Linked DNA regions of Homo sapiens. The protein of the gene in region 2 interacts with the protein of the main gene of each other region in a biochemical or structural test. Each region holds a gene or a part of one and is shown on either strand. Other genes may lie near its edges. The genes, in order: GRIP2, SH2D3C, MPP7, CARD11, FRMPD1, RAPGEF6 and FRMPD3.

Region 1 (3,500 bases), on a different chromosome or scaffold from region 2:
ATCTTCTATCCTTCCTGGAGGCCTCTGCAGCTCATGTGGCAGGAGGCTGAGAACCCTTTCTGCATCAACAAAGGAAAGACTGTTCCCAAGAAGGGTTTCAAAATTTTAGGCATTATTGTGTTTTGCCACTTCCACAGGGCTCCTGCCTTATCATTCACTACTTTTGTCTTCTATTGATTTACTTTTCTTAACATGTAAATATCTTTATTTCAAAAGGGCAATTTTGAACAATAAATAAGCAGAGAAGTAAGACTGGAAATTATTACATTCTGGACAGCTAGAGTCTCAGGCCATGTCTTTGTCTTAGGGGAAATTAACAAATGGCAGAGAGGTGGTAAGGATATAGTAACGCAGCACTGAGGCTTTATCCATGAATGAATCAGGACTGAATGGCAAAAAATGTGAAAACTTCATGCACATCTGAAAAGACTTCCTTTCCTCAAGGACGTTATCACCAAATCCTAGGAATTTTTCATAATAAAAATACAAGAATAAAAGTGTACAAAGTAACTGGCACCTCTCAGTGGTCCTCTTGAGCAGTGCACAACCTGCCCAACCATCCATGACAGCCTGGTGTTCCACTCATGTTATTTAACATTCCCACGCATACACCTGGAGCTCTGCCCAAAATACCTCCCCTCGCCCTGACATACACCCTTTGGCAAGCCTCACTCTCAGACATACAAGCAGCCCAAGGAGGAGGGAAGAGACCACAGCTTACACGAGCTCTTGTGTTCCCTTCTTCGCTGCCTCCTCCGCCCCATTGTAGTTCGAGGACTCATGGGCTGGGATCCACGGGGAAGGGTGCTGGGGTTGTTGCAGGAAAAGGCGTGGTTCAAGGTCGGCGAGGAAAAGGGAGTTGAAGACAAGGCTGGGGAGATGAGAGCACAGCCCCGTGAACCCCAGCCGAGGCTCTCCACCCCACCACACAGTGGGTGCTGGGAAGCCACCCAACCACAGGGAGAGATGGGGATGCCTTCCCCCTTCACATCAGTTACTCATTGTGTGACCTCAGGCAAGTCCCTTTCCTCTCTGGGTCTCAAAGACTGCAGGGTTTCCATAGACCCTGTGAAACTCAGCTATTAGGGACGGGGCCAATCTTGCCACTGGCATGCTAGATGACAATGAGGCAGGCCACCTAATCTCTCTCTCTTTTTTTTTTTTTTTTTTTTTTTTTTAGTTGAGGTCTCGCTCTGTCACCCAGGCTGAAGTGCGGCGGTGTGATCTTGACTCACTGCAGCCTCAACCTCCCAGGCTGAAGCGATCCTCCCGCCTCAGCCTCCCGAGTGGCTGGGACCACAGGCGTGCACCACCACACCCAGCTCACTAATCTCTGAGTCTGAGTTTCCTTCCCTTAGACAACAGGCATCGCCCCCTCCCTAGGAAAGGCTACAAGACTGGCTGAGCTACAGCAGGGCAGGCACATTACATCGGCTTTGGTCCTGGCCAGCAGGTGTGGCCCAGGTGGGCATCCTGCAGTGGCCGGGCCGGGGGCTGTGGCAGGAGGGCACGCAGGGGTCCCAGCGGTGCAGCTGCTCACTCCTCTGCACTTTCACTGTAGCCAGCGGAGAAAGAGGAAAGAGAGGTGCAGGCGTTAGTGGCTGAGGGCACTATGAAGCCAGGAAAGCAAGAACCAGAAGATCCTCGTGCTTCCCCTGAGCCAGGCAAGGCATTTAGTATTCTGCTCACATGTCCCGGACGCCTACAATGTGCCGGGCACTGTGTTCAGAGTGCAGCTGCTGCCACATGGCAGCCTGAGAGGCAGGGACAGGAGAGAGAAAGGAAGCCAGGCCGAGGCCCACTGCTGGGAGGTTGTGGAGCAGGGATTTGAACACAGGCATCCTGCCCTGGAGCCGGAGAGGTCTATGGCTATGAGTGCTGCCATGAAGTTTCTCCAAGAAAGAATTGGTGAGGAGTGCAGCTGGCAGACGGTGTCCAGCTGCAGCACTTTGGGGATATGCAGTGGCTCTGCAGCCCAGGCAGCCTCGGCCAGTGGCTGAGCACCGGGGCACTAGGGCCTGGCTATTTCTGCCCCACGACTCTCCAGGACAGCCTTTGCTCCAGGGCTTCCTGCTGGGTTGGCCAAGGCTGAAGTGCACCACGGGCTGAGGCTGCTCCCCCTTCCCAGGCTGCAACCCTTCCCAGCCTTATCCACAGTGAATTCTTTGCACTCCTGTTCCAAGTTCCCAGGGAACCCCCACTGCCCCGACCCCCTAGGAGACCCTGCTTCCTCCATCTGATCCTCCAAACTGGCCACCATACAACACCTCTTCCCAGACCGCCCCAGGCCAGCTCTCCTCTTGCGCGGATGGACAGGTGAGGACTCAACTGTCTCAGCCCGTTGATTCTGTCTCCTTGAGCCACATCTCCACAGCCCCCCTCCCCAGGGCTTGGCCCACTCTGGAGCCAGTTGCCTGGGTCAAATCCCAGCTCTGTCCCTGACCAACTGCGGGACCTGGAGGAGTCACTTCGCCTATCTGTGCCTCAGTGCTATTATCTGTAAAATGGGACCAAGAGAGTGGCCACCTCCTCGGGTAATGGGGAGGGTTAGAATGAGTTAATAATATAACATGCTTAGAGCAGTGCCTGGCACTTAGTAGAAGCTCAGTTAATGAGAGCCAAGGGGTTGTACGCAGATGTGTAGCCTTGCAACGCTACCTCAGCTTTCCCTGTAAAGTGGGAGGACAGTAAGACTAAGCTCAGAGAGGTGTCATGAGGAAGTAATGAGGCGTGCAGGCCGCGGCACCGAACCTGGCACGTGGCAGATGCTCGATAAATGGTACGAGAATGAATGACGCTGTTTCAAGCCCTAATGTCACCCAGACCAGTCCCTGGACTGTGGTTCATTCAGTGTGGCTTTTTCAGAAGCTGGCAGAGACCATAGAGATGGACTCTCCCCAAGAACTGTCCTCCCAATCAGATGTGGGGGATTCCGTTCTCTTCCAGAAGATGGGGTTTGCAAAGGGTGGGGTGGACAGACTCCTTCCTCACCCTCCAGCTCTGCCCTTAGGGCTAGGATTTATAGGCCTGGGCTGTGCCTTGTCCTTTATCTCCGTCAGCCTCCCCCATGTCTGTGCATTAGAAGTCCTCCCTCCTTTTTACAGATGAGATGACTGGGACTCAGAGAGGGAAAAGCACTTGTCCAGCTGCTGGGAGCAAAGATGGGACTTTCACTCAAGGCCCAAGGTTTGGGCTGCTGGACGTGCTTTCCTGCCCTGAGCTGAAAGCTGCCCCTCTGTGGCCACCCCCCACCCTGCCCCTGGCCCCAACTGTGCCCTCTGGACCCCCAGACCACCCACTTCCTCTGCTCTTGGAAATGCCCAGCACCCAGCTCCCTGCTCATAGCTGGGAGACCCTGACTCTTCAAAGGAGAAACTCCAGGCCCTCTCTAACTTCCCAGCTGCCTCCTCTGGATCTGCTGAGAGTCACTGAGAAGAGCCCAGGATCTAAGCTCTGAGTAGCAGAGAGCACAGGACTGTTCCCTCCCTCATTCTAGCCCT
Region 2 (3,500 bases):
TTCAAGTGATTCTCCTGCCTCAGCCTTCCAAGTAGCTGGGATTACAGGCGCCCACCACGACGCCTAGCTAATTTTTGTATTTTTAGTAGAGACGGGGTTTCGCCATGTTGCCCAGGCTGGTCTTGAACTCCTGACCTCAGGTGATCCGCCCGCCTCGGCCTCCCAAAGTGCTGGGATTCAGGTGTGAGCTACCACCCCCGGCCTTTTTAAAAGGAGAAACTGGAGGCCCAGTGAGGCTAAATGACCAGCCCAGAGTCACAGAGCAGGCAAAGGACAGCCATGGAGCTAGAATCCAGGCCCACCTGCTGTACTTGGGGAATCTGGGAGCCAGCTTCTCACTGCCCTGCCCCACAGAACAGAGATGCTCCCTCCACCCCAGTGCACAGCCAGCACCTACCAGGCAGTCCACCTTGGTGACATGCCGGGCCAGCGTCCGGGCATCCACTTCTGCCAGCAGCTCCTTGACCTTGCGCAGAAGGCCCACCTCCAGTGGCCGGTTATCCCTGGGGATCAGTAGTGACTGGAAGGTGGCCGGGTTGAAGGAAGAAGTGACTTCCACGATGGGGACTGTGAAGGTCTTGCCCCAGTCCCCTTCAGGGGCCCCATTTTCTGACAGTTCCTTTAGCCTCTCCCCATAGCTCCTGGCCTGCTGGCTGGAGGTCTCAGTCGCTGCCCACTCTCGGCTGCCACGCACGGGAGGCTGGAGCTGGCAGTAGTGGCCAGAGTCCGGGTCACTGTAGCTGCTGAGTGATGGTGACGGGGAGGCCTTGCCAAGGGTGTGGGAGGGGCTGGTGTGGGGGCCCTTGTCTGACTCCCCATGGGTCTTTGGGGCACTTCCGGGACACAGCTGGGGCTCACTGGAACGGCGGGCGACAGGGGAGGCAGGCAATGCTGTGGCAGAAGGGGCTGCAGGGGCGGCATGGACACGGGTTACTGCAGAAAGGTAGAGAGAGAGGCCCCGTTATAGCAGCTCCCCACCAAAGTGAGATTCCCGCACCCCTTCCCAAAGAACAGGCTCCCTCACTCCTTGTAGGGAGTACAGAGGTGATGTCCCCACCTCCCTGCATCACCAGAGACCAGGGCCGATTGACTCTGGCAAGCTGACCAGCCCAGGTGATGCTCTGAAATCACCAGGACCCAGGAGTTTGCATGGCCCCACCCTGAGGCTGCTGCAGCCTTGGGGACCCACTGCTTGGAGGAGCTTCAGTGATCCGGGGAAGCTGAGTACCTGCTGGAGTTTCTTGTGCCACATGTGATTGTTTCTCGACGAATTAGCAATAATGATTTCCTTTTTTTTTTTTTTTTTTTTTTTTTTGAGTCACTGTCTCGCTCTGTGGCCCAGGCTGGAGTGCAGTGGTGCCATCTAGGCTCACTGCAACCTCCACCTCCTGGGTTCAAGCAATTCTTCAATTCTTGAGCCTCAGCCTCCCGAGTAGCTGGGATTACAGTCATGTGCCACAACGCCTGGCTAACTTTTTTTTGAGTCAGAGTCTCGCTCTGTTGCCTAGGCTGGAGTGCAATGGCATGATCTCAGCTCACTGCAACCCCCGCCTCCCAGGTTCAAGCAATTCTTGTGCCTCAGCCTCCTGAGTAGCTGGGATTACAGATGTGCCCCACCATGCCCGGCCTGAATTAGCAATAATGATTTGTTGCTAAACCTTGTGTGCTAGGAGCTGGCAACATGCTGGAGACATAATGACAGTAAAACCATCATCAAACCTCAAAGGCGATATTTACTAAGCTCTTAGTGCCTGCAAGACCCTTCTTTGTACCTCAGTCTATTTAATCCTTTCAATGTCCTATGAAGTAAGTACTTTTATAATCCTCATTCTACAGATGAGAAAAGTGAAGCTCAGAGAGGTGCACTAACCTGCCCAAGGTCACCCAGCCAGCAAGTGGTACAGCTGAGATTTAAGTCTTGACATCTGGGCTGCTTTACTATACCAGATTGCTTAGAAACTGTCCAATAAGTCATTCTGGCAAGGAATTTTAGGTTTTATACTCAGGGTATTGCTTTGAAATCAAGTTTGTAGTTATGACAAAGTTGGTGGCTCTGTGTTTAGGGAAGGATTTGTGACAACCGATACAGACAGCAACACTTCAATGGAATGCCACCCTAGGCGAAAGTTCCTCCTGAGTCAGCCCCCTCTCGTGACACTTGGCCTGCCACGTGGACAATACGGCCTGTTGAAAACATTCTTTTTATTTTTTTTCCAGAAATGATCTATTGGAATGTTTCTAACAGAGAAACTTTCTTCGTATTTATAAGAAAGCACAGTGTTCCGTACTTTCCACTTAATTTTGCTGCAAACCTAAAACTGCTCTAAAAAATAAAGTCTATTAAGAAAAATAGAGGCCAGGTGCAGTGGCTCATGCCTGTAATCCCAGCACTTTGGGAGGCTGAGGCGGGTGGATCACCTGAGGTCAGGAGTTCGAGACCACCCTGGCCAACATGGTGAAACCCCATCTCTACTAAAAATACAAAAATTAGCTAGGCATGGTGGCACACGCCTGTAATCCCAGCACTGTGGGAGGCCAAGGCAGGTGGATCACCTGAGGTCAGGAGTTCGAGACCACTCTGGCCAACATGACGAAACACCGTCTCTACTAAAAATACAAAAATTAGCCAGGCGTGGTGGCAGGGGTCTGTAATCCCAGCTACTTGGGAGGCTGAAGCAAGAGAATCGCTTGAACCCAGGAGGCGGAGGTTGCAGTGAGCCAAGATCCCACCACTGCACTCCAGCCCACAAGAGCAAAACTGTCACAAAAACAAATAAATAGTTGCTAAATAAACAAACCATGGATACATCTTATATGTTGATATCAACAGTTCTGTTAGCAGGATTCCAGTGTCAGTTCTTTCTCTTGGTAAAGGTCGCGCCTCATAAAAGAGGCGGAAACACACATAACCACACATAGGTGACAGAAGTCTTCAACAACAGATTCCCTCCACCTGCTCCACCCCCTCTGCTGGCCATACCAGTGCTGTAGGCAGGGGAGCTAGGGCTCTCGGAGATGGGCGACATGGGTGAGTGCAGGTCTGGGATCTGGTCCATGCTGAGGGCACAGCTGCGGATGGAGTCCCGAGGGCGGGGCAGCGACGTACTGTGGAGCAGACACCATCATGGGCAGGGAGCCCGGAGGTCAGGGGCCTCAGCCTGCCTCTGGGACCCCCCACCTCTGCACCTTGAACTTCAGAGGCAGAGAAGGCTTGGAGATTATCAAATCCAACCTCCCGACTGACAGGTACCAAAAAAACTGAAGCCCAGATGAGGGAGGGGGCACAGCGAGTCAGGAGCAGAGCTAGGAACCCTGGTGGCTAGAACGCCTGGTTTCTTTTTTTCTTTTTTTGTCTTTTTTCTTTTCTTTTTTGTTTTTTTTTTCGGAGATGGAGTCTCACTCTGTCGCCCAGACTGCAGTGCAGTGGCGTGATTTCAGCTCACTGCAACTGCTGAACCTGCCTCCCGAGTTCAAGACATTCTCCTGCTTCAGCCTCCGAG
Region 3 (3,500 bases), on a different chromosome or scaffold from region 2:
CTAGAATAAATATTTATCAGATCCAAATATTGAAGTATTAACATAAAAAAGAAATCATGCAAATCAACATACAAAAGGACTCCGTTACAATTAATACTTCTACATACACACACAAACAAACACACATACCCCCACACACACCTCACCTTCCTATGCATCTATATAGAAACCAGTTTGAAAGAGCTATTAAAAAGCAAAATATCCCTTTTGTATAGTTCTTTTAAAGAAATACATATACACTTATCAAAAATTTTCAATCAATGAAAATTTATAATAATATCAAACTGTACATTTCTAAGTTGCCTAGGACTGAAAAAGAGTTGAGTATGGATCCAGATTCGAGTATAATTACATTTATTTCATCTTTAAGTGACACATTATCTTATCCCACATATGCCAAATATATTAGAAATGTGTAAGCCTCCTATTTAAAAATCCCTTTGAGAGCCAGTCAGGCAAGGAGCCTCAAAGCTCCTTTCTGTTAGTGAGTTGGCCAGTGAAAAGTCATCACGCTTAAGAACAGTGCAATATTCTCACGAAAGCTTTAAGTTTTCTGATGTCAGAAGACTTGTAGCATTCTGTGACAAGGGTTTTTTTCCTTGTGCCTAGACTTAATGTAGCAAGGACAAGCAGGCTTTTGAATGAGTGCTCCACTTTAAGCATTTGCCTGCTTGTGAGATTTATACTCGACTACAGTTTGGCTCCCTTCTAATGTGATTCCTGGGCTATATGCTTCTGCAAACTGACAGAAATCACAGGAGATGTGAAAAATGCAACAATACTAAAAACAGATGTTGGTGTAAAATTCCAGGGCCATTTATTTGGTCATTTCGCTGTTTAATGTACAGTTTCTATGCTAAAAACAAAGGGTTGGTTTTTTCCTCTTAAAATACCTAGAACCATGAAACATCTAGGCGAGGTGGAACAGGGAATTTATGGGATGCAGACTTGAAGAGCTGGGTGGTGGGAAATAAAGAAAAGCTGACAGAAGATTAGGCTGAAAGAGAAAAAAAAGTATTTAAATGCACACTAAGTTTTTCAGTAGTCATACGGTAGCCATCCTTTGTCTTTCTCTCATTTTCTTTTAATCTAGTCTGGTAATAACTCCAAAGGGATAGGCTAAAGGTCAGAAGTATTATGATCTGGGGATAAGAAAGGAATTAAGAACAATTGGTCTTGAGCACAATTGCTTTTGTACCCAAGAAAATGGTAGATTTTTTTTCTCCCTAATCTTTACCAAGAAATACCTAACCCAAACTTCCTGGCTTTGAAGAAGGAAGAGCTGTATTTTAGGTGACATTTAATAAAATAACTATATTTGGAAATCAAAGACAGTAGTAGTAGTAGTCACTTTCTTAAAGAGTGAGTCATGGATTTATTATTAACAACCTCAACCACCCCTTTCCTCAAAAGATTCATGTTAATATTCCAAATATGAATCTCATATTTGTTTGTTCCTGAGAACTGATGATCCCAAAGTTATTGCTAGGGTAATAGGACCCTTTGTTCTGCCATGAGCACCTGCTTTAATAGTCAAAAATAAACATCAGGGTTTGGTTTCTCTGCATTCTTATTAACAAACTTACATGATTTCCTGTTGGAAACTTTCAGGGGCTGAACCAATATTTCTGGTCGTCTCAAAGCCAATCTCCTGGGAGAAAGAAGGTCAACATACCTATCAATTTTCAGCACAGGTCCGAGGTGAATACAATATCAAAATATTTAGTCTTAAGAAAAAACTTAAAGGTTAGAGAAAAAAATGAATGTAATGCAATAGATTCAAATTAAGAAACAAATCGCCCACTTTCAAATTTTTGTAAATTATCTTCCCTCCCTCCAAAACCACTGGTCTTTTTTTTTTCCACCTTTCATATCAACATGGTTTCAAGATATTAATGTGCTATTTTCCATTTGCTTCATAACAAAAATCTAATATGACCCAGTACTGTCATATTATTTTTGGTCATTCATCATACTTAGTTAGACAAAACAGAAATCCAAACCCACAGGATAAAAAATTCTAAGGCAAGGTTTTATAGCATATTTTATCACATCAATGCCAGAATGATATTTTGCAGAGAACAAAAGGTCAGCTGGAGAAAAGCCATTATTATGTACCAGCAGCTCACCTTTCCTGGAAATGCTTTGAGGGGATCAAGCCTGCCCTGGGGTTGGCATCAGCTTCGTGTTTCGCTTGCCACCAAGTTGCATCATCTTGGCTCATAATCTGAAGAATATCTCCCTTTTTGAAAGAAAGCCCAGCTTCCTTACATGGAATTGCCTTATCCTCATTAGGATTATAGTCAAAGAGGGCTTTGATAAACATCTGGAAGAAAAGTTTCATTAAAGATGAATAAAGATAAAAAATAAATGTGAAATGGCCTATATTCTCCTAACTCCGACTCCAAACATAGTAATTTTAAAACTGGAATATTGAAAGAAATGTGTTGTGACAAAGTGGATATGTGTTGGATGGAAAAACATGACTTCCCTCCCACGCACGAAGAAATGTTTTTAAGCAATAATTACCTTGCCTTCTTTTGATGGTGTCTCCTCTTTGCTGCCGGGTATAATCTTAAATGTAATTGCTCCCTGAGACTGAGCCTGGTAACAGATAAAACAAGGAGTTATAAGAAAACCAGACCCAAGGAAGAATAAGGTAAAATAGGTAGAAAGTGAAATGCATCTGAAAATTTACAAGCTTGGGGCTTCTACTCTTAGATAGACTAAACGGAGGAAACTATTTTTGTAGAAATTCCTGTAATGTGAGAAAGAAAGCTCTGAAGTTTGTAGAATAAGTTAAAAAACATTAACTCCTAAATCCACTTTTACTTCCTGTGTACTTTTAAGCTGTCAAGTAAATACATTCCCATCCAAGTTTCTTCGAAATAGAAACACACAAAATATGCACAACACCTTAAATAAACACAGTATTCAATGACTAGAACAGATAATGTATAAAGGTCTGGGTGCAGTGGCTCGTGTCTGTAATTCCAGTGTTTTGGGAGGCAAGGTGGCAGGATCACCCAAGCCCAGGAGTTCAAGACCAGCAATATAGCAAAACCCCTGTCTCTACAAAAAAAATTTTAAAAATTAGCCAAGCGTGGTGATGAAGCTAAGGCCTCTTGAGCCCAGGAGTTCAAGGCTGCGGTGAGCTGTGATCGCACCACTGCACTCCAGCCTAGGTGACAGAGCAAGAAGCTTTTTTTTTTTTTTTTAAAGAATAATGTACAAGGTTCATACAGTTACATTTAAGTATCAGCATCCATGTTTTGGGGGACAAAACACCTATAATGTCAGTAGTGCAGTTACAAATACATGATTCAATTAGTGGCAATGCCCATCAGAAAAAAAAAATAAAGAACATTCATATCTATTGTATTCTGGTGAGCGAGTAAAATATCCAACGTAATAGATTAATTGAAAGATGAAAAGACTGAGTATCTATTCTAACTTCATTAAAATAAGTACCAGCACCCACAAGTTTTTGTTATCTCAGA
Region 4 (3,500 bases), on a different chromosome or scaffold from region 2:
TAAACCAATGAGACATGGGAACTGGCACACTTTTTCTCGAAAGCTCCAAATAGTAAATATTTTAGGCCTTGTGAGCCAGAGGGTCTCTGTCGAAGCTAGCAACTCTGTCCTTGCGGGGTGGAGGCGGCTGCAGTTGGGAGTGAGTATGGCCACCTTCGGCACAGTGGATGGCACAGGACTGGACCCTCAGTGGGAGTGTCCAGACCCCAAAATTAGAGAATTCAACCAATGGAAAAAATGGTGAAAGGGTACAAACACACGGAATATGAGCAGGTCAGTCAGCATGCTTCGTTTGTAATTAAATCCATGTGAAGTAATACAACAGGGACATAGCGTTTTCCACCTGTCAGACTGGCAAACATCAAAAAGTTTGATAGGCCAGGCGTGGCACCTCTCACCTGTGATCCCAACACTTTGGGAAGCCCAGGTGGAAGGATCACTTCAGCCTAGGAGTTCGAGACCAGCCTGGGCAACATAGTGAGATCCCACCTCTACAAAAAAACTTTAAAAAATTAGCCAGGCATGGTGACACACACCTGTAGTAGTCCCAGCTCCTCCAGAGGCTGAGATGGGAGGATCACTTGAGCCCAGGAGTTTGAGGCTGCAGTGAGCTAGGATTGCACTACTGTACTCCAGCCTGGGCAGTAGAACAAGACCCCATCTCTAAAAATAAAATAAAAAAGAAAGGTAAAACTGATTGCCCATCAGTAATAATAATAATAATAATTTTTAAAAATTAAGGTATAACACACACACAGTACAGTCTTAAGCGTACAAACAGCTTGACGGGCCTTCACATGCCCTTCTGGAGCCAATCACCCAGATCAAGATTTGGGTCCTTTCTAGGTTCTGGGGAAGTGCCATATCCCCTCCCAGTCGTTACCCCTCCCCTGTCCCCTAAGGGAGGACCCTTCCAACCTCTATCACCATCCCTGTCCTTGAACTTGACGTGGACGGAGTCACATTCAATGTTTCTTTTTCATTGCTACACAGTATTTCATGGCATAAATTTACCGCAATAGGGGCAGGCGCTGTGTCTCATGCCTGTAATCCCAGCACTTTGGGAGGCCAAGGCAGGCAGATTGCTTTGAGCTCAGGAGTTCAAGACCAGCCTGGGCAACAGGATGTAACCGTCTCTACAAAAATTCAAAAATTAGCCAAGCATTGGTGGCTTGCGCCTATAATCCCAGCTACTCGGGAGGCTGAGGCTGGAGAATTGCTTGAGCCCAAGAAAGCAGAGGTTGCAGTGAGCCAAGATCGCACCACTGCACTCCAGCCTGGGTGACAGAGTGAGACCTGTCTCAAAAAAAAAAAAAAAAAAATTACCACAATTTACTTATCCACCTGACCGTTGATAAATGTTTCTGTTGCTTGCAGTTTGGGGCTGTTATGATGAAACCACTGTGAACATTCTTATACGTGTCTTGGTGGTGATGGCCCTTTAAAAAAAAAAATCTGGAAGCAGCCTGGGCACAGTGGCTCATGTCTATCATCCCAGCACTTTGGGAGGCTGAGGCAGGAGGATGGCTTGAGCCTAGTTGTTTGAGACCAGCCTGGGCAACATAGTAAGACCCCATCTCTACAAAAAATGTAAAAGTTAGCTGGTGTAGTGGTCATGCCTGTGGGCCTAGCTCCTCAGGAGGCTGAGGTGGGAGGATCACTTGAGCTCAGGAGGTAGAGGCTGCAGTGAGCTGTGATTGCACCACTGCACTCCAGCCTGGGCGACAGAAGGAGACCTTGTCTCTGAAATTTAAAAAATCCAAGGAGGGCTGGGCGCGGTGGCTCACGCCTGTAATCCCACCACTTTGGGAGGCCGAGGCAGGCGGATCAAGAGGTCAGGAGATCGAGACCATCCTGGCTAACACGGTGAAACCCTCTCTCTACTAAAAATACAAAAAAATTAGCCAGGCGTGGTGGTGGGCACCTGTAGTCCCAGCTACTCGGGAGGCTGAGGCAGGAGAGTGGCGTGAACCCGGGAGGCGGAGGCTGCAGTGAGCCGAGATCGCGCCGCTGCACTCCAGCCTGGGTGACAGAGTGAGACTCCATCTCAAAAAAAAAAAAAAAAAAAAAAAAAAATCCAAGGGCAAGCAGAGGCCCTGTGCCGGCGTTTTCTGCGGTTTAGTAAATTGCTATGTCAGTGGATAAATGCTGCTGTGAAGTAAAACTGTAACGTTATTGACATTAGTGCTTCGTTGCCTGCCTCTGCGTAAGGATTATGTGATTCGTGGAAATCTTCTAAGAAGAAATGGCCTATTTTTAAAGGGATTCAGGTATCGTTGGTTCCGGGGGAAACGTTCAGCAGAATAATAACGATACCTCACACCGCCTTCCAAGACTCCTGACTTCAATTCTCAGACGCGTTTCAAGAAGCAGCTTGATACCCTGCGGAGAGCCTCTGCGAGCTGACATGGGGGTCCCTGTTTGCCAGTGAACAGGCACCGTGATCCCCGTTTGAGTCCCTGAGGCACGCAGAGGCTCTTGGCTCTTCGTAGGAGAGTTCTCGATCTTTGAAAAATGTTTCTCCTCCTTCTTAAAGGACGGCCTTTTACCGGGCCCTGTTCCGAGTGTTCTGAGCCCGGGGAGGTCTTAGACTGGCGAAGAGCATGACCTAGTGGGGAAAGGACCCAGCTCCGGTACAAGCAGAAGGCCGTCTGTGCGCCGGGGACGGGTCACCGTGTCTCCTCACTCATTTTATGTGGAAGTTTGCTGTAATTTTGTCTTGCTCTGTTGCCCAGGCTGGAGTGCAATGGTGCCATCATAGCTCACTGCAGCCTCAGCCTCCTGGGTTCAAGCAATCCTGTCACCTCAGCCTCCCAAGTAGCTGCGACTACAGGCATGTGACACCATGACCGGCTAATTTTTTTATTTTTTGTAGAGATGAGGGTCTTGCTATGTTGCCCAGGCTGGTCTCGAACTCCTAGACTCAAACTATCCTCCAGCCTCAGCCTCCCAAAGTTCTGGGATTACAGATGTGAGCCACCGTGCCCAGCCCTGTATCTTTCTTAAGTAATTTGTACATATATACATATTATTTTTAAAAAATTATATATGTAATTATATGTATAATTATATATTTATATATAATTGTATATAATATGTATAATTATATTTGTATAATATCTATTTATATAATTTATATATATAATTTAGTAATTATATATATACAGTTCTATTTTCTTTGACACAGAGTCTCACTCTTGTTGCCCAGGCTGGAGTGCAGTAGTGTGATCTCAACTCGCTGCAACCTCCACCTCGCGGGTTCAGGCAATTCTCCTGCCTCAGCCTGCTGAGTAGCTGGAATAACAGGTGTGTGCCACCATGCCCAGCTAATTTTGTATTTTTAGTAGAGATAGGGTTTCACCATGTTGGCCAGGCTGGTCTCGAACCCCTGACCTCAGGGGATCCGCCCGCCTCAGCCTCCCAAAGTGCTAGGATGACAGGCATGAGCCACCGTGCCCAGCTGTAATTTTAAAATATATTTTAAAGATCAACCTTATGTC
Region 5 (3,990 bases), about 90 Mb from region 2:
CTATTCTTTGACCACTGCAAATCTAAGACAGAAGGGAGCCAGTACCCCGCTCCCAGCTATATGGACAAAGCTGATATATTTAGAGCTGTGTCTGTCAAATCTGCCCCCCTCCCCCACCAATCTGGGTCCTTGAGTACATAGTGATAAGCTTGTGTGAGGCAGGGATTGAGCCTTCTGATTAGCCTTCTGTGACCTCCCACCACCTAACAGTATTTACAGGGCATTGCCTGTTGTTGATGTTAGTATCTGATCTGAACACCTTCCAAATAACAAAAAGCCCCTGCCCCTTGAATCAGGAGGCACCTCGAGGACACATCACATTGTCACAAGAACTCTCTGCTGCTGGTGAGGTTCTAAATCAATGCACATGCTTAAACCAAAAGCACTATTTACTCCAATGGTGCCTTCAAACACTTATTCAGCTTGCCCATGAACCCTCTGATAAAAAGAATTGACTTTTATCCAACACCTATTACATGCAAACATCCTATTAGACACTGTTATACATGATCTCATTTAATCTTGTGAGTTTGGAATTATTATTATTCCCGTTTTACGAATTAAAAAAGTGACGCTCGGAGGCCCAATACTCCACAGCCAGCGAGGATTCCAGCCCAGGTTCAGAGCCTCCAGAGCCTCTTCCCGCTGCCCTGTCTCTGAAGTGCTCTGCCTTCTCTGTGCTTCCACCAGGCTCACTGCTCTCATCTGTCTCATGCTCTCCCAGCTCTCACCAGTTCCTTGCTCGTACCAGCTCCTTGACCTACACATAGCCTTTCTATTCCTCACCACCTGTTGAAATCCTCTTCTTCCTCCACCTTCCATTGTAAAGCCTTCTCCAATATCTCCACTTGGAATTCACCCTCCTTAGTGTTCACAGGAATCCCAGGCGATAAAGCCCACAATGAAGATCCTGTGGCACAAGCCTCTCTATTCCCCAACAGAACCTAAGCTCCTTGAGGGTAGGGCCTGTTGGTAATTTTCATGTTTGTGTCCTCTCGAATGAGTAGTGAGAAAGTGCTTGATGAACCAATAGAGAATGAAGAGGGAAAAGACTGGTGGCATTTGAATGCGTCAGAGAGATAAAAGGCTCTGGACAAATTAGCTTCAAGGATGGGGTCTCATTCAGGAAAGACAAACTTAGGTACCACAACTCTGCTCTGGTCACCAAGCACACCCTCACCAGCTCTCTGATTTCATAATGCTAGAAACTTAAAACCAGGATGTCGAGGAAGGAAATAAAATCATAAAATCACTTCTGTGAGAATCCTTTCGTGGTAATGCGTTTCACCCACACACTGGGGAGCCACTAATTGCAGCACAAGGGGAACAAGATATTGGGCAAAAGAATAAATTTCACTTTCTAGCATATCACAGTTAACTACCTCGTGCTTGTTTTGCTGTGACTGTGCCAGAATGCACCAGTCCTGGAAAAGATGAACTTGGCTCCTTAACCGTACCCATACTCAACACCGACCAAAGGATGCCCGAAATTGTCTTGATTGGAAATCATCTCAACCATCATCTTAGACTAGAAACAAGTAGATGCTGGCCTCTAGGTCAGGACCCCTAGAACAGTGCATTATTTTTTTTTCCCAAACAACCATTCTGAGGTTTTTACAAAAATAACCGACTCACAAACAGAAACGCTTCCTGATCTATAAGCCACTTTGAAAACAAATCATTATGTCGTTGAATATTTCATGACGGTCCAAAGCACTGAAGAAGGCGAACTGAGCGTTCACCAATCCTCCCCATGTCTATTTTGGGACTTCCAAAGCAAACTGCAAATGCCTCCTTTATTTTCTAAACGTTCATTTGCAAGTGCTAGATGGATTCTTGGTGAAATATTGCCTCCACCCAAACTGACTAAATGCAGAGATCCGGAGGTTCCGCTTCTCCAGAGTTTACAGCTGAAAGAGACAGCGAACAACTAGTGAACACGACTTCCACCCTATTTTATAGGTGGCAAAAGCAGGGGGCACTTGCCCAAGGTCACACAGACAGTGGGTGTATGGCAGAGGAGCCACCAGAAGCCAGAGTCCTGACTCCTAACCCTAGGGGCATCCCCTGCTTCCCGAGGCTGACTCAACGCCCCCACTAAAGCTCAGTCAAAGCTGCTGCAAGTTAGCGACGCGACCCTGGAGACTGACTTCTGTGGCTCATTCCTCTCCACACGCAATGAGTTCTGGAGCTGAGACACTCAGGGATGCCCCTCTACTCAAAAAATGACAACACAGGCATTGGCACTGCAGCTGATCGTCCCTGGCGAACCCCTTCTGGTTCAGGTGTGGCCATCGAGGACGGACAGAGAGGGTTGGTCTGAGGTCACTCAGAAAGTTGGCGCTGGCCGCGGCCGCACCTGAACCCAGGTCTCTCCCCCTCCCGCGTTGCCGCTGTTTCCACTCACTACACCATGCAGATCTCGGAAACTTAAGCACACATCGCTACTGTGCAAACAGTTCACGATGGCAGGTCCTGAGCTAGCCCACGGACGCGCCCCCGAGCCGGGCTTGGGGACACGAGGACCGGAGGCGGGCGCGGGTCACCCGGGACTGGTGGTGCAGGCGGAGGGCGGCGCGGAGGAAGCCGAGGCGCAGGCCCGGGGTGTGGGGACAGGCCGTCTCCCCAAAACTTTGCGGTGCCAGGACCCCTCCCTTACCTGCAGAGGAGGTGCCGCCCGCGCGGACAAGGACCTAGCGGGCTGACGCTCTCGGAGAAGGGCGGCCCCGCCCAGCGGCGGGCACGGTCGCGGCCAAGGCTCGGGAAGCAGCGCTGCTCGGGCTCGGCTCGGGCTCCGCCTCCCGCGCCGAGGCTGCAGCCGGAGGGGTTGGCCGGGCCGGGCCGCGCCCGCGCCGTCTGGCGGCGGCAGGTGCTGAGGCTGCAGCTGCGCGGCCGCCAGCTGCCGGCGCCGCGACCCCCGCCCCGGGGGAGGAGCCCCGCGCGCCGCCTCCGCTGGCTCCGAGGTCCCGGCCCGCCGCAGTGGGCGGTCCCGCTCCCACCCGGGCCCTGCCTCCGCCGCCTGCCTCAGCTCACCGCCGGGGCACGCAGCGTCCGCTGAGTACCCAGGGGGGAGACTGAGGCTGGGAGAGGAAAGGGACTCCCCAAGGTCACCCGGACCAGCGGTGGTTGGGCCAGAACTGGAACCCAGAAGAGTTCCCAAAACGACCCCCTTCTCACGCCTCCTTTTCCCCAGGAAGAGCCCCAGCTACGGGGAGCCCTGGGGGACTCGCCCCCTGACCCCCACGCCCCGCAGGTGTTCGGCTGAAGGGAGAGGGAGAGCGTGGGCCCACGGTAGGCACTGTGGACCACCTCCCCTGTCTCTGTAAACTCCTTCCGCGCTGGGAAACTGTGTTCTCCTAGCTTTCCTCGGCCCTCTCCAGCCACTCCCTCGGTCTCCTTGAGGGTTCCTCAAACCAGAAGCTCTAAAATGCCGGAGCGCCCTGGGACTCTGCACTCAGCCCTTTTCTGACCCCCTGAGCCGTCTCACCCACTCCCCTGGTTCTGGTCCTACCGCCTCTCTGAGCATGATACCCAAATGCATGTGTCTGTGCACTATTTTCCGTGCTGAACTCTACTGAACACCTACGAGGTCCATATCCTGCATTAGACACTGGAGATACAATACACCTTTAATAAAGCAGTCCCTGTCCTCATGGAATGTACAGTCTAGGACTATTAAAATACAGTCCAGTTCCTGTAACAATAACCCAATCCCACGGGGCCAAGGGCACCACTCAGGCCTGCACTGACTGAGTGAAGGCCTCCTGGAGAGGGCATGCTCTAAATGGAAACCTGAAAGGCCAGTGGAATTGGCCAGTGAAAGGGAGGAGTGTGGAGAGAGCCTTTCAGGTTGAGACCACAGGAACAAAGACCCCAAGATGAGAGAGATCCCACAGAGGGAGTGGCAGGAGTTGAGACATAAAGCAGGGGAGTCAGCAGGGGCCAATTCCTGGTCAAGGAGTTTGCACCGTGTTCCCAGTGCACTGGCAG
Region 6 (3,500 bases), on a different chromosome or scaffold from region 2:
CCAGCCTGGGAGACAAGAGAGAAACTCCGTCTCAAAAAACAAACAAACAAACAAAACAAATTAATCATCTGCCAATGTATATTTAGGGCATATGGACTTTATGTTTTATAGTTCATTTCAAAGTTTTTCAAAAAAGTCTGGGGGAGGAGGAGAAATTATCTTTCCAACCAGTGACCAGGTTGGGCCAATTCTACCTCCTTAATACCTCACTATCCCACTTAACTGCTGCCACCACTGGGTCCAGGACCTTATCTCACACCTGAACTACTGTATTTGTTTCTAACAACAAAACATACTTCTTGGTGGCTGGGCACGGTGGCTCACACCTGTAATCCCAGCATTTTGGGAGGCCGAGGTGGGTGGATCACGAGGTCGGGAGATCGAGACCATCCTGGCTAACATGGTGAAACCCCGTCTCTACTAAAAATACAAAAAAATTAGCCAGGCATGGTGGCGAGCGGCAGTAGTCCCAGCTACTCGGGAGGCTGAGACAAGAGAATTGTGTGAACCCGGGAGGTGGAGCTTGCAGTCAGCCGAGATAGCGCCACTGCGCTCCAGCCTGGGTGACAGAGACTCCGTCTCAAAAAAAAAAAAAAAACCATACTTCTTGGTTTCCATATTATCTTAGTATAATCACTAGTAGTCTTACCTTTCACATGGAAAATATCCCAGTTTGGATAAAATACATGTCCAGTCTACCTGTATACCTATAAGCCTCCCTGTCTCTAGTCTGCTCCTCCCCACTCAATTACATCTCCAAAATGCTCACATAGTAGTCTTTATAAAACTGATCTTATTTCCAGGCTTTAAACCCTGCAACGGTTCTTTCTCCTTTATTTATAAGATGGAGTCCAAATTTCTGAAATTATCCAAACCCTGCTAGTACGTCCAGCTTCATCATTAAACATCTCACATCATGTACCATCATCCCCAAACATCCTAGACATTAGCCCCAGTGTTCTGCAACCTTTTTTTCATTTTCATCCCCTCCCAAAGAACCTTTCAGACAATTTTTCGTAAGCACTGCCCCATCTCTAATTAAATACTAAAGAATAAGACACTGTCAGTTTAGGGCTGAGTTTTAGAGGGCCACAAACCATACCAATAGCTGTGATTTTTTTTCCCACTCCCATAAAAGGCAATTTTTGCATCTTTGGGAGCGATATCACTTCCAACGGGAATGCCTGCTCTAGACTTACAGATTGGCTTCTTATTCTACAAGTATACATGGCTTGCCATCATCAGTACTTTTGCTCCTGCCTCTCTGCTTGGAATGACCTCTCTTGATCATCCAGAAATCAATTCATGACATTTAACACTGGGAATTCAATGCTCCCCCATGAAGCTTGTTCCCTTCCCCATCTTGCAATCCCAAAGCCCTACTCATACCTTTGTCACTAATAACTAAAACATTTATTACATTTATGTTTTCTTATGTCTCCCAAGTCATTGATGAATAGGGACCATGTCTAACTCCTCTCTACAACCTTGGTTTTTAATATATCAGATATATTATTTCTTAAATGAATGTACAAATTAATGTTATCATCTGGGTGAGGTAACCATATCTCAGTTTAAGCGGGACAGTCCCTCTTTAACCTGTTACTCTGAAATAAATATTAACAGCTTCTCTTTTAATTCACAAAAATGATTTGAACAACATATTGTTAATCTATACCTAGGAAATATAGGAAATAAAATTCTGAGCAAGAGTAGAACATAATCAGATCTGAGAGGAAGATCACTCTAGCAGCAAGACTCAATGACTCAAGCAATAATTTGGGGGTAGAAACAATAAAACAGACTGAATTAGAGTAGTAAAACTTGTAAGAAAAGGGCAAATAAAAAGATTCAGGGGACAAAGTTTAGTGGCAAGTTGCATCTATGAGGAATGAAGAGAAATAATACAAATTCCTAGAGACAGCAACTCGGCCAGCTGCCAACAGATTATGAAGGAAGAGGAATAATGATGGCTCAATTTAGGACAAGTGGTTGAAGAACCTGGAGGACAAGATGGTTGATATATGAAGCTGAAGCACATAAAATTTAGGGGATAAGTTGGAAAACATAATCCTAGGAGGCATTAGCCTATAACAACTAACTGAAACCAAGCTGCTGAGTAAGACTGTCCAAGAAACAAAAAGTTAGCAGTTCCAATGAATACGAAGTGCTACCTTTTTAACATATGATGACTTTACAAAATGTATTTCCAAATTTTGGCTTGTAAAATATTTATTCATCATTTAATATGTGCAAATCATGGCATTAAGCACTGAGAGGGAAATAAACATTAAGGGAAATATAAGGAGTTCATTCTGAAGTAAAAAAAGGAACGTTATAAAGAATGGTATTAAATGTGGATTGAGCTGAGAAACAGCCAAGTTCAAGGTCTAATTATGACTGTGGCTTCTTTAAGGAATTCTGGCATAATGACGCAAAGAAGTACAGGCATACTCTGTTTTATTGTGCTTGGCTGGTATTGTGGGGTTGTTTTCTTTTTTTTTAAATACAAATTGAAGGTTCATGACAACCCTGCATCAAGCAAGTCCAACAGCACCATTTTTTTCAACAGCACATGCTCACTTCATGTCTCCGTGTCACATTTTGGTAATTCTCACAACATTTCAAACTTTTTCATTATATTTGCTATGGTGGCCTGTGATCAGCAATCTTTCATGTTACTACTGTAATTGTTTTGGGGCACCACAAACTGTGCCCATGTAAGATGGCAAACGTAACTGATGTATGTGTTCCAACTGTTCCACTGGCTGTTCCACCTTCTCTATCTCCCTCTCTTGGGGCCTCCCTATTCCCTGAGACATAACAATACGGAAATTAGGCCAATTAATAACCCTACAATGGCCCCTAAGTGTTCAAGTGAAAAGAGTCACCTATCTCTCACTTTAAATCAAAAGCTAGAAATGATTAAACTTAGGAAGGCTAACAACGGCCCAAAGCCAGGCCTCTTGCACCACACAGTTAGCCATGTTGTGAATGCAAAGAAAAGGCACATGGAGAAAATTAAAAGTGCTACTTTAGTGAACAAAAAAATGATTTAAAAAAAAAAAGTGAAAAAGTCTTATTGCTGATATGGAGAAAGTTTGAGTGGTCTAGATAAACCATCAAACCAGCCACAACAGTCCCTTAAGCCAAAACCTAATCCACAGCAAGGCCCTAACTTTTCAATTCTAAAAAGGTTGAGAGATGAGATGGCTGCAGAAGAAAAGTTTGAAGCTGGTGGAAGTTGGTTCATGAAGTTTACGAAAAAAAGCCACCTCCACTAACATAAAAAGTAAGTTATCCTGAAGATCTAGCTAAGATAATTAATGAAGGTGGCTACACTAAAAATCAGATTTTTAATGTAGACAAAACAGCCTTATATCAGAAGAAGATGCCACCTAAGACTTCCATAACTAGAGAGGAGAAATCAATGCCTGGCTTCAAAGCTTCAAAGGACAGGCTGACTCCTGTTAGAGGATAATGCAGCTGGTGACTTTAAG
Region 7 (3,500 bases), on a different chromosome or scaffold from region 2:
CTGAGCATGTATCATGTGGAAAGCACTGGACCCTAGGGAGGCACATGTTTTCCATGGAAATGACTAGGCTGGTGTGGTGGCTCATGCCTGTAATCCCAGCGCTTTGGGAGGCCAAAGCAGGAAGATCACTTGAGCCCAGGAGTTTGAGACCAGTCTGGGCAACATAGTGAGACAGCGTCTTTACTTTTAAAAAAATAATTTAAAAAAAATGTAAAAAAAGGAAATGTACCTCTGTACCTCTAATTCATCAGTCCTAGGGTGTGGAATTCTGGGAGACAAAACCCCAGCCCAGGGGAAAGTGGGAGAGTTGGGGGCACAAGACCTGACCTGGAGAATGGGTCACTGGGTGGAATGGTGAGGGATCAGGTTACTGCCTCCACTTTCTAGTGCTCTGAGGGACTCCCACTGTCTGCTTTCCCAAGCCCCGCAGCAGCTTCTTAGCTTTGTAAGATTCAATCTGCCTGTGCTTCCTGCCCTAGAAGCAGGAGAGTGGTGAGACGCACTAGAATCAGCATGCAGATGTACATATGGGACGCAATCGCCCCATACATTCCTCCCATTCCAGATTTCTTGCATTACCAACTAGCTTCTCTTTTAAGATGCAAATTTCCCCGGAGAGTTAAGCCATTCCCACCTTGCTGTGAATATTTAATCAGATTGTTTTCTTCTCAACTGAGAGCATCAGTGCTCACCACCATCTCCTCAGGTAACATTTTTTTCGAGGCACCCCAGTGCTTGGGTTGGAAATATGAAGATGAAGAGGGCCTGGTCTTGGCCCCTGAGTCAGGCACAGTCTAATGGGGAAACACATTAGTCAGTCCCAACACAGTGCATTAGGCACAGGTGCTCTGGAAGCACAGAGGAAGAACACTAAGCCCAGCCTGAGGGAGGTGGAAAAGGCCAGAGCTGGGTCTTGAAAGACAGATAAGAGTTTGTCTAGATTAATCCGTGGGCATGGGTCATGGGAGGAAGTGTTTCCCAGGCAGAGAGATCCATCTGTACAAAGGCCCAGAGATATGAGAAACCATGGTGCAAGGACAGAAATGCAAATCATTCAGCCTAAGCAAGTACAGAAAATGCAAGCTGTGTGCAAGGGGTGAAGATAGGGGCAAGAGAAGAGGCCAGAGAGGTTGGCAGGAGCCAGTTCATGGAGGGCCTTGTGTGCCAAGGAAAGAGGTTGTACTTCATCCTCTAGGCAGCTGGGAGCCATTGAAGGGTTTAAAGCAGGGAGCTGATGTGATTAAACTTATGTTTTAGGATGCTCCCTCTAACAGTGTGGAGGCACTTGAGGGAAAGAGGGAAACAAGTGTCAGTCCTGAAGGTAACCTGGCTGTCACCCTGACACAGGTGGGAATGTCAAGGCAATGACTGGCTAGAGAAGAGGGATGGATAGATTGGAAAAGGAGCTAGGGGGTAAGTATCCAGATGATCTGGTAACTGCTGGCTCTCACATGAGGCGATTAAGGAGGAGTCCAGTGTGACTCACAGGTTTCTGGCTTGATTGCCCAGGGGATGCTGATATAGACCAGGAATGCCTGAAGTGCAGGCTTGGGACTTAGGAATGCTTAGTATGAACGGTATTGAGTGGGACCCCCAGCTGGGGAATGACCAGCATGTACATGACTCTAGGGGTCTGAAACATCTCAGGAGAGAGGTATGGATTAGGTGGGGCGTCAGTTAGTTGGAATTAAACCAAAAACAAAATGAGTAAGCTGGATACTTTAGGAATGAAGATCAGGAGGTAGGACAAGATTTTAGAAAGGGAGATGAGATACTAGAGGGAAGAGCTGTCCAAACTAGAACCTTGCTGCTGTTTTAAGAAGGGCATCTTCACATCTCCACAGTGTCACTTGCTGACTGGTGCCTGTCCTAGGATGTTGAGACTCCTCGTTGAGAACATGGGTTTGCTTTTCCTGTGCCCCTCAGGCTTCTCATATTTCTGGATGGGTTTTTCCACAGGGCTCTGCAATTCAGGCAAAGCTCCAGTATCTACGAATTCTGAATGAACTTCCTACCTTCACGGGCGTTTTGTTCAACACTGTAGGCCTGGTCAGTGGCGCAGGATTGGGGGATGTGGGGAGGGAGCCCCTTGTTGGCTCTTGTCCTTGGGTGTGGGGGCAGGAGGGGCAAATATTTCTAAAGGCCTTCGTTCCTCTTCCTCCTCCTTCTACCTCTTACCTCCCTGGCCCTGCCTCTGCCAAAATGATAAAGTGGGAGGAGATATTTGTTTTGAGTATCCCTCCATGACCTTTTTTTGTTCCTCTTCCTCGATTTGGGGGCGCAGCATACTTTTTCCATAAAGGGCCAGATAGTAAATATTTTAGGTTTTGCAGGCGGGCCATACTGGCAACTGTGGCAACTACTCAGCCCTGCTGTCAGATTATGAAAGCAGCCACAGACAATGCATAAACAAATGGGTGTGGCTGTTTACCAATAATTATTTATGGATACGAAAATTTGAATTTCATGTACTTTTCACATGTCACAAAACATGCCTCTTCTGATTTTTTTTCCCTACCATTAAAAAATCTAAAAACCATTCTTAGCTCCTGGGCCATAAAAAATAGGTGGTGGGTGGTATTTGGCCCATGGGCCATGGTTAGGCAACCCCTGCTCTATTTCATTTTTGTTCCACATACTCCCACAGTCCCCTACCCTAGGTTTCCTGAGTCCTTCTACTTCTCCCCCTGCTTGCTCAGCACCTTTGCTGCAGGAACAAGGCTCTGGGGCAGGGCACAGCTGGTCCCACCCTAAGACTGTGCCCCAGGCTAGTTTACCCTGGTGAAAGGAAATTCAAATCACCTTGCTAATTGGATCCAGGTGCTTGTCTTGCTCCCAGGAGCACATTGTCAGCTAGTGCGGCACATCGGTGGAAAGCCACTTATCAAAGTGCCTATAGACAGGCACAAGAGGTTCCTCAGGGTGATGCTAATACCAGGGAATGGGCCTCCAGACGACCCAAGCTTGATTGCTCCAAGGAATCTGTCAAGACCTCTTAAGGGAATCCAGTCCTTCAGGCCGAGAGGTAGCCATTTACATACTGGGATTTGCAGAACACTGAAAGCCCACTGTCCCCTCCCACCTCCTTCATACACTGTCAAATCTTTCTTCCACCCACCTACCACTGCTAAAATTTCTATTGGCCATACCTGCTGGAGTGCCCATTAAAAGGCAAATCTCTGCTTAACGAGGGAGGCTGCCATGAAGTACCCAATCAACCCTCAACACCTTAGGCAGAGTTACTGTGCCAGTTTAGTTTTTGGCCTGGGTGAGAAGTGCAAGTTTGAGTGGCTGTTGGTGGGGGGAGGGTAAAGACCAGACACAGGATGCCGCCTTCTCAGGCAGAGCACTGGGTGGGGGCCTCAAATGGCCTGCAGCAACAAATGGAAAGCCCCTGGGGCTTGGAAGGGGAGGGTGCTCCAAAGGCCCCCAAACAAACCTCACCTACTTCACGGTTTTGCTTGAGCTAGCCCTTCTGCCTGTGCACTTTACTCAACCTG

The links.
Region 1: the proteins of SH2D3C (region 2) and GRIP2 interact in a test that uses a peptide from one of them, tested with the Homo sapiens proteins (one large-scale study listed by IntAct).
Region 3: the proteins of SH2D3C (region 2) and MPP7 interact in a test that uses a peptide from one of them, tested with the Homo sapiens proteins (one large-scale study listed by IntAct).
Region 4: the proteins of SH2D3C (region 2) and CARD11 interact in a test that uses a peptide from one of them, tested with the Homo sapiens proteins (one large-scale study listed by IntAct).
Region 5: the proteins of SH2D3C (region 2) and FRMPD1 interact in a test that uses a peptide from one of them, tested with the Homo sapiens proteins (one large-scale study listed by IntAct).
Region 6: the proteins of SH2D3C (region 2) and RAPGEF6 interact in a test that uses a peptide from one of them, tested with the Homo sapiens proteins (one large-scale study listed by IntAct).
Region 7: the proteins of SH2D3C (region 2) and FRMPD3 interact in a test that uses a peptide from one of them, tested with the Homo sapiens proteins (one large-scale study listed by IntAct).

The regions. Positions count from the first base shown.
Region 1 is NC_000003.12:14,516,343-14,519,842, forward strand, and holds part of GRIP2 (glutamate receptor-interacting protein 2), read right to left. Parts: intron 1,556-3,500; coding exon 1,430-1,555; intron 872-1,429; coding exon 722-871; intron 1-721.
Region 2 is NC_000009.12:127,744,167-127,747,666, forward strand, and holds part of SH2D3C (SH2 domain-containing protein 3C), read right to left. Parts: intron 3,106-3,500; coding exon 2,981-3,105; intron 934-2,980; coding exon 398-933; intron 1-397. UniProt on the Homo sapiens protein: Acts as an adapter protein that mediates cell signaling pathways involved in cellular functions such as cell adhesion and migration, tissue organization, and the regulation of the immune response.
Region 3 is NC_000010.11:28,118,065-28,121,564, forward strand, and holds part of MPP7 (MAGUK p55 subfamily member 7), read right to left. Parts: intron 2,605-3,500; coding exon 2,530-2,604; intron 2,327-2,529; coding exon 2,130-2,326; intron 1,652-2,129; coding exon 1,587-1,651; intron 998-1,586; coding exon of another isoform or gene 993-997; exon of another isoform or gene 795-992; intron 1-794. UniProt on the Homo sapiens protein: Acts as an important adapter that promotes epithelial cell polarity and tight junction formation via its interaction with DLG1. Involved in the assembly of protein complexes at sites of cell-cell contact.
Region 4 is NC_000007.14:3,033,868-3,037,367, reverse strand, and holds part of CARD11 (caspase recruitment domain-containing protein 11), read left to right. Parts: intron 1-3,500. UniProt on the Homo sapiens protein: Adapter protein that plays a key role in adaptive immune response by transducing the activation of NF-kappa-B downstream of T-cell receptor (TCR) and B-cell receptor (BCR) engagement.
Region 5 is NC_000009.12:37,649,764-37,653,753, reverse strand, and holds the start of FRMPD1 (FERM and PDZ domain-containing protein 1), read right to left. Parts: upstream 2,801-3,990; 5' UTR 2,660-2,800; intron 1-2,659. UniProt on the Homo sapiens protein: Stabilizes membrane-bound GPSM1, and thereby promotes its interaction with GNAI1.
Region 6 is NC_000005.10:131,625,230-131,628,729, forward strand, and holds part of RAPGEF6 (rap guanine nucleotide exchange factor 6), read right to left. Parts: intron 1-3,500. UniProt on the Homo sapiens protein: Guanine nucleotide exchange factor (GEF) for Rap1A, Rap2A and M-Ras GTPases. Does not interact with cAMP.
Region 7 is NC_000023.11:107,561,152-107,564,651, forward strand, and holds part of FRMPD3 (FERM and PDZ domain-containing protein 3), read left to right. Parts: intron 1-1,959; coding exon 1,960-2,049; intron 2,050-3,500.